2 linked regions of the Homo sapiens genome follow. The protein of the gene in region 2 interacts with the protein of the main gene of each other region in a biochemical or structural test. Each region holds a gene or a part of one and is shown on either strand. Other genes may lie near its edges.

Region 1 (3,823 bases), on a different chromosome or scaffold from region 2:
AGTCTGACCTGTGCTTCTGCTATTCCATTGAAGGTACTCTCTCTGTTAGTTGCCCTTTCCTGTTGCATTGGATGATTGTCACTCCCTCTTGACACTCTTCTCTTGACTTCTATGTGACCCTTCAATCTTCCAGTACCGCCTAGGACCCCTTAATCTTCCAGTACCGCCTAGGACCCCTTCTCTGCTTTACTACATAAGTTCCTTCTCCTCCATCTGTCCTAACTTAATGTTGATAAGCCCCCTGAGGCGCTGACCTCGGGTCTCCTCTGTGTCCCTCTGTAACCCTTTGCGGTGTGGTGCTGGCACTGTTCCTTTCTTGATTCCCAAATCTGTATATCAGGTGCAGACTTCTTCCCTGAGCTCTAGACATCATACTAACAACCCATTAAACTTCCTTTCCTCAGGTTGGCAGCTTCTGCACTATGATTTGAGGCATAGTGCCACCACTAGCCATCAGTCTCTAAGCCAGAACTTGGAGCCAGCTGTAGACTGCCTTATCTGTCACCAAATCCTGCCCCTTCTACCTTCGAAATCCTCATGCTGCTCTTTGCTTCTGCTTTCCTGACACTTTATTGTAGGCTTATTCTCTTCTCGCTGGTATTATTTGATCAGTTTTTACAGTTTGTTATTCCTTTCCTTACCCATAGGTTAGTTGTCCTTGGTTCTTTTTGCCATGGAACATATTTCTGTTCGTGATTTTTCAGATTTTTTTGGGAGGTGGTATTATATTTGAACAGAATTCCATAAAACTGAAGGATTTTTTAGTTGGATATGACCATAGATATCTTTGCCAAGATAATTTTGTGTGAAAACTAACTAAAATAGATACTGAGTTATTAATATATTCTGTGTGTTCATACTATAAATGTTTAGAATTTTTTTTTTTTAAATGGGTCTTGCTCTGTTGCCCACACTGGAGTGTAGTGGTATGATCATGGCTCACTACAGCCTCGACCCCCTGGGCTCAAGTAATCCTTCCACCTTAGTCTGCCAGAATGCTGAGTACAGGCATGAGCCACCTTGCCTGGCCTAGAAAAATCTTTTTTTTTTTTTTGAGGCAGAGTCTTGCTCTGCCATCCAGGCTGCAGTGCAGTGGTGTGATCTCAGCTCACTGTAACCTCTGCCTTCTGGGTTCAAACAATTCTTCTGCCTCAGCCTCCTGAGTAGCTGGGATTACAGGCATGCACCAACACACCCGGCTAATTTTTTGTGCTTTTAGTAGAGTTGGGGTTTCACCACATTAGCCAGGCTGGTCTCGAACTGCCGACCTCAAGTGATCTGCCTGCCTCGGCCTCCCAAAGTGCTGGGATTACAGGTGTGAGCCACTGCTCTGGGTCTAGAAAAATCTTTTGTAGCATAATATTAAAAAGTATAAAAAAAAGTCTTTGTGAAAAGCAGTTCTATTCTTTTCCTCGTTTTGCACTGGCATGCCTTCATTTTCAACACTTACTGCTGTTTCTATGGTCACGGTTATGTCTCTCCATCACTATACCACATTTAAAAAGTAAATAATGATATTATTAGTAATGTGTCTACAACCATTTTTCACAAACATTGTGCCATTAATACAGAAATTCAGTTTCCACTTTGCCCAGGGGTCTGAAAATATGGTTGATTTGCCTGGCTTTTTTTTTTTTTTTTTCGTTTACTTTAAGTTCTGGGATACATATGCAGAATGTGCAGGTTTCTTACATAGGTATGCATGTGCCATGGTGGTTTGCTGCACCTATCAACCCATCATCTAGGTTTTAAGCCCTGCATGCATTAGGTATTTGTCCTAATGCTTTCTCTCCCCTTGCCCCCCACCCCCTGACAGGCCCTGGTATGTGATGTTCCCCTCCCTGTGTCCGTGTGGTTTCATTGTTCACCTCCCACTTATGAATGAGAACATGCAATGTTTGTTTTTCTGTTCCTGTGTTAGTTTACTGAGAATGGTGGCTTCCAGCTTCATCCATGTCCCTGCAAAGGACATGAACTCATTCCTTTTTATGACTGCATAGTATTCCATGGTATATATGTGCCACATTTCCTTTATCCAGTCTGTCATTGACAGGCATTTGGGTTGGTTCCAAGTCTTTGATATTGTAAATAGTGCTGCAATAACATAATGTGTGCATGTGTCTTTATAGTAGAATGATTTATAATCTTTTGGGTATATACCCAGTAATGGGATTGCTGGGTCAAATGGTATTTCTGGTTCTAGATCCTTGAGGAATTGCCACACTGTCTTCCACAATGGTTGAACTAATTTACACTCCCACCAACAGTGATTTACATGACTTTTAATTGAGGTGGATGAATATTCAGATCTACTTCAAATGGGCTTCACTTGAAATATCATTGAATTGAAAATTTATCTGAAAGAGTCTCAAGACCTTGCAGAGTGCTTTTATGTTCCAGTGTTGTATACAACAAAATTCTAGCAATATGAAAAACTTCAGACGGTTCTTTTAAAGCTTTCTTTTTTTTCTTTTTGGTAATTTATATCAGTATTTGTGTATTTCCAAAATTGGTATAATTTTAAATAAATGCATTTAATTGATTTACAGGTCCCTCCTTGTGGTCCATTTCTGGGCACCATGGGCTCCACAGTGTGCACAGATGAACGAAGTTATGGCAGAGTTAGCTAAAGAACTCCCTCAAGTTTCATTTGTGAAGGTATTTATATTTCAATGTCATGTCTTTTGTGAATTTAATTCTGATTTATGGGTTAGATTAGGGCTGGGTGCGGTAGCTCACACCTGTAATCCCAGCACTTTGGGAGGCTGAGGCGGGCAGATCACCTGAGTTCAGTAGTTTGAGACCAGCCCAGCCAACATAGTGAAACCCTGTCTCTACTAAAATACAAAAATTAGCTGGGCGTGGTGGCGGGTGCCTATAATCCCAGCTATGTGGGAGGCTGAGGCAGGAGAATCTTTTGAACCCGGGAGGCAGAGATTGCAGTGAGCCGAGATTGTGCCACTGCACTCCAGCCTGGGTGACAGAGCGAGACGCTGTCTCTAAATAAATAAATAAATAAAATAAAAAATTAGATTTTATTAACTAATATAAAGATGGAGTGGTATGGAATTCCAAATATGTATAATTGGTGTGGGATCTGTTATTTTTGCACATCATTCTTAAAAATCTTAAAATAATTTTGCATTTTTTTTTTTTTTGAGACAGAGTCTTGTTCTGTCGCCCAGGCTGGAGTGCAGCTCCAGCTCACTGCAACCTCTGCCTCCCCGGTTTAAGCGATTTTCCTGCCTAAGCCTCCCGAGTAGCTGGGACTACAGGCACATGCCACCACACCCAGCTAATTTTTTGTATTTTTAGTAGAGATGGGGTTTCACCATCTTAGCCAGGATAGTCTTGGTCTCTTGACCTCGTGATCTGCTCACCTTGGCCTCCCAAAGTACTGTGATTAGGCGTGAGCCACCACGCCTGGCCAAATGTACACTTTTCCTTGATCATCCTCGGGTGTGAGGCATGACTACCAAATGTCAAGGTGGCTGTGGGCTGGAGTTTTGGAGAGCACAGGCAGACAAATTAGTTCCCTGTGGGTAACTGTGGTTTTAAGGCATTTAAAATAGTAACACAAATTATGTCATTGAAAAGCTAGGTGTGCTGTAGAAAATAATTCAGGAAGGGGTATGTAAATGCTGCTAGGGACCAGGGAACAGGAAGTTGCTATCTTGGTTTAGATGAAGGCAGACCTCCGGGAGAAGGTGAAAGTCTTTCTAACCTGTTCAGAATGTAGAGGAAGATGGAAGCCAGTCAGTCTCTTCCTTGCCTCTTTTGTTTTTCACTCTGGTTATGTGTACTCCTACATTCCTGCTGTCTC
Region 2 (3,823 bases):
TGCACTCTTGCCTGCACAACAGAGTGAGACTTGATCTCAAAGAAAAAACAAAAAAAAAATAATAACCTATTCTGTTTAATGTACAGATGGTCCTTGACTTAATGATGGTTCTACCTATAATTTTTCAACTTTTATGATAGTATGAAAGTAATACTCATTCAGTAGAAACTGTATACTTCAGTTTTCAGTAAATTACATGAGATACTAAGCACTTTATTATAAACAGGCTTTGTGTTAGATGATTCTGCCCAACTGTAGGCTAACGCAAGTGTCCTAAGCGTGTTTAAGGTAGGCTAGGCTAACCTAAGCAATTGTGTTTAGTAGGTTAGATGAATTACATGCATTTTCATCTTAATAGTATTTATCAGGATGTAACTCCATTGTAAGATGAGGACAATTGTATATATATTTTAGTGATATTATTTTATTATTATTATTATTATTATTATTTTTGAGACAGGGTCTCACTTTGTCACCCAGGCTGGAGTGCGGTGGCATGATCTCAGCTCATTGCAGCCTCGACCTCCCAGGTTCAAGCAATCTTCCTGCCTCAGCCCCCACCAAGTAGCTGGGGTTATAGGTGTGCACTACCACACTGGGCTAATTTTTGTATTTTTTGTAGAGACGGGGTTTCGCCATGTTGCCCAGGCTGGTCTCGAACTCCTGGACTCAAGCAACCTGCCTGCCCCAGCCTCTCAAACTGCCGGGATTACAGGTGTGAGCCACTGTGCCTGGCCATAGCGATACTATTTTAATTTGACAAATCCTTTTTGTTGTTCGAAGTGTTTTTACCTAAGCTCTTAAATGTTATAATTCCATTATTATTGTTTTTTTATCACTCTCTGCTTCTTGAAACCCCTTCCAGAGGTTGTGAGATAATGACTATGAAAAGAGGCTTATGAACTGCAAAGTGCACAGAAACACAAGTATTCCTTCTGAATAGTTCCTTTTTTATCTCTGTATAGTTCTAAGACACTACATTTAGTCATGTAAGGTTTAAATTCCCAGCAAAGAATGCTGATTTATACTACACATAACACAAAGTTCTATTTCCAAATAAACAATGAACACCTTTATACATTTCAAAATACTTTCATTTCTATTATTCTATTTGATGAAATGGTTATGTTTTGACTGAAAGTCTAGTGAAAAATATTAAAAATCCAGACTTGAATCACTCTGACAGCTATACCACCGATCAAAAAAGTTTTTACTTCATGAACACTGTCATTAGTTTCACATGAATCAATAATTACCACATCATTCCCAGGGTTCGGCCACTATTTTTAAACTTTTAATTTTGAAATAACTATAGATTCACAGGAAGTTGGAAAAAACAAAAAAAAGTTCTGTATATTAAGGAGGTCTTCACTTCGTCCCTCCCCACAGTTAACATCTTACCCAATTATAGCATGATATGAAGACCGGGAAATTGATATTGATGGTCCACATAACTTTTTCAGATTTCATTTCTTTTATATGTACTCGTTTGGCAGAAGGGGGCTATATAGTTCTATGTAATTTTATTATATGTGTAGATTTGTGTAACCACCACGACATTCAGAACACAGAATTGTTCTATCACCACAGGAACCCTCATACTACCCCTTTATAGCTCCACCAACCCTTTCCTCCCACTTCTAACCTCTGGCAAACTCTGATCTCCACCGCCACAATTTTGTTATTTCGAGCATATGAATGGATTTGTACAGTACAGAGCCTTTTGAGATTGGCTTTTTTCACTCAGCTACTTCCCTTGATATCCATCCAAGCTGATGTACATATAGTTAGCTAGTTCATTTTTATTGCTGCATCACTTTCCATATTATGAACATATCAAAGTTTATTCACCTGCAAAAGGACCCATTTTTAGATGGCAGTTTCCTTCTATTTTATTACATAATGAGTCAGCCAAAGATTACAATTTCTCCAGATATGTTGCTTCAGATTTTAACAATAATTTATCCCCAAGGAAAAGGTTTTGCTACAGGAATACTGATCTCCCAATGATACCTCCTGCTCACGGAGATGCAGCACACATACTCTAAGACTCAACCCTGTCAAACATGTTTTCCAAGTGAAGATCTCCTTACCTACAGCTGTCTCTACTGGCTCCTTCAGAAAAAGACATCCACCAGGCCGAAGGATCCGGGCGATTTCAGCCAAAATCTCAGCACTGTGCAGAGTGGTGCTTCCTGGGACTAAACCTGACAAAATAATGTCAAAGCTGGATTCTTTGTGGGCAGCTGAAAAGAAGAGGACTCTAATTAGCAATCTCCTGAGCCTGGGATAATCTCCTGGTCCCTTCCAACCCCCAACAAAAGCTACAGACCTCACCCTGAGAGAATGGACACCACTCGATATCCATCCAAGAAGCTGGATGAATAGTAAGTGTTTTAAAAAAACATGGAATAGCTACCAAGAAAGAACATACTTATGGAAATCATCAACTACACTCCTAAGCTCTGCTGCAGGAAGTGAGGGACCCCAAACGGAGGGACCGGCTGAAGCCATGGCAAAAGTACACAAATTGTGAAGATTTCATGAACATTTATTAGTTCCCCAAATTAATACTTTTATAATTTCTTACGCCTGTCTTTACTGCAATCTCTGAATATAAATTGTGAAGATTTCATGGACATTTATCACTTCCTCAGTCAATACTCTTGTGATTTCCTATGCCTGTCTTTACTTTAATCTCTTAATCCCGTCATCTTCATAAGCTGAGGATGTATGTTGCCTCAGAACCCTGTGATGATTGCGTTAACTGCACAAATTGTTCATAAAGCATGTGCATTTAAACAATACGACATCTGCGCACCTTGAAAAAAGAACAGGATAACAGCGATGTTCAGGGAACAAGGGAGATAACCATCAGGTCTGACTGCCTGAGAGCCAGGCGGAACAGAGCCATATTTCTCTTCTTACAAAAGTGAATAGGAGAAATATCACTGAATTCTTTTTCTCAGCAAGGAACAGCCCTGAGAAAGAGAATGCGTTCCTAGGGGGAGGTCTCTAAAATGGCCACTCTGGGATGTCTGTCTTATATGGTTGCAGATAAGGGATGAAATAAGCCCTGGTCTCCCGTAGCACTCCCAGGCCTGTTAGGACGAGGAAATTCCCACCCAGTAAATTTTAGTCAGACCAGCTGTCTGCTTTCAAACCCTGTCTCCTGATAAGATGTTATCTATGACAATGCGTGCCCGAAACTTTATTAGCAATTTTAATTTCGCCCCAGTCCTGTGATCTCGCTCTGCCCCCGTTTGCCTTATTTTATTGCCTTGTGAAGCATGTGATCTCTGTGACCCACACCCTATTCGTACACTCCCTCCCCTTTGAAAATCACTAATAAAAACTTGCTGGTTTTGCGGCTTGAGGGGCATCACGGAACCCGCCGACATGTGATGTCTCCCCCGGACACCCAGCTTTAAAATTTCTCTCTTTTGTACTCTTTCCCTTTATTTCTCAGACCAGCCGACACTTAGGGAAAATAGAAAAGAACCTACGTTGAATTATTGGGGGTGGTTCCTCCGATATATCTCAACTGAAAAACAACAGGGTGACCAGCCACCACTATCACATGCCACCCTAAATGAAAACTCAGATATCAAGGAACCACAGAAATGCAACACTCCCATGGAAACCCCTCCAGCCTCATAAAGACAACGTGGGTGGGTACTTACATTGCAACAGCTGCTTGATGTTTTCCACAGACACGCGGCCCTCATTGCCGGTTAACGCTTGAAGCTTATCCACCAGACCTTTCAGAGCCTCCACTGGGGATGACTTATCCCAGACCACTGCCACAAACTGGCCAGCAGAG

The links.
Region 1: the proteins of CIAPIN1 (region 2) and GLRX3 form a complex in vitro, tested with the Homo sapiens proteins (one study listed by IntAct).

Annotation. Positions count from the first base shown.
Region 1 is NC_000010.11:130,142,662-130,146,484, forward strand, and holds part of GLRX3 (glutaredoxin-3), read left to right. Parts: intron 1-2,549; coding exon 2,550-2,658; intron 2,659-3,823. UniProt on the Homo sapiens protein: Together with BOLA2, acts as a cytosolic iron-sulfur (Fe-S) cluster assembly factor that facilitates [2Fe-2S] cluster insertion into a subset of cytosolic proteins.
Region 2 is NC_000016.10:57,437,089-57,440,911, forward strand, and holds part of CIAPIN1 (anamorsin), read right to left. Parts: coding exon 3,684-3,823; intron 2,247-3,683; coding exon 2,094-2,246; intron 1-2,093. UniProt on the Homo sapiens protein: Component of the cytosolic iron-sulfur (Fe-S) protein assembly (CIA) machinery required for the maturation of extramitochondrial Fe-S proteins.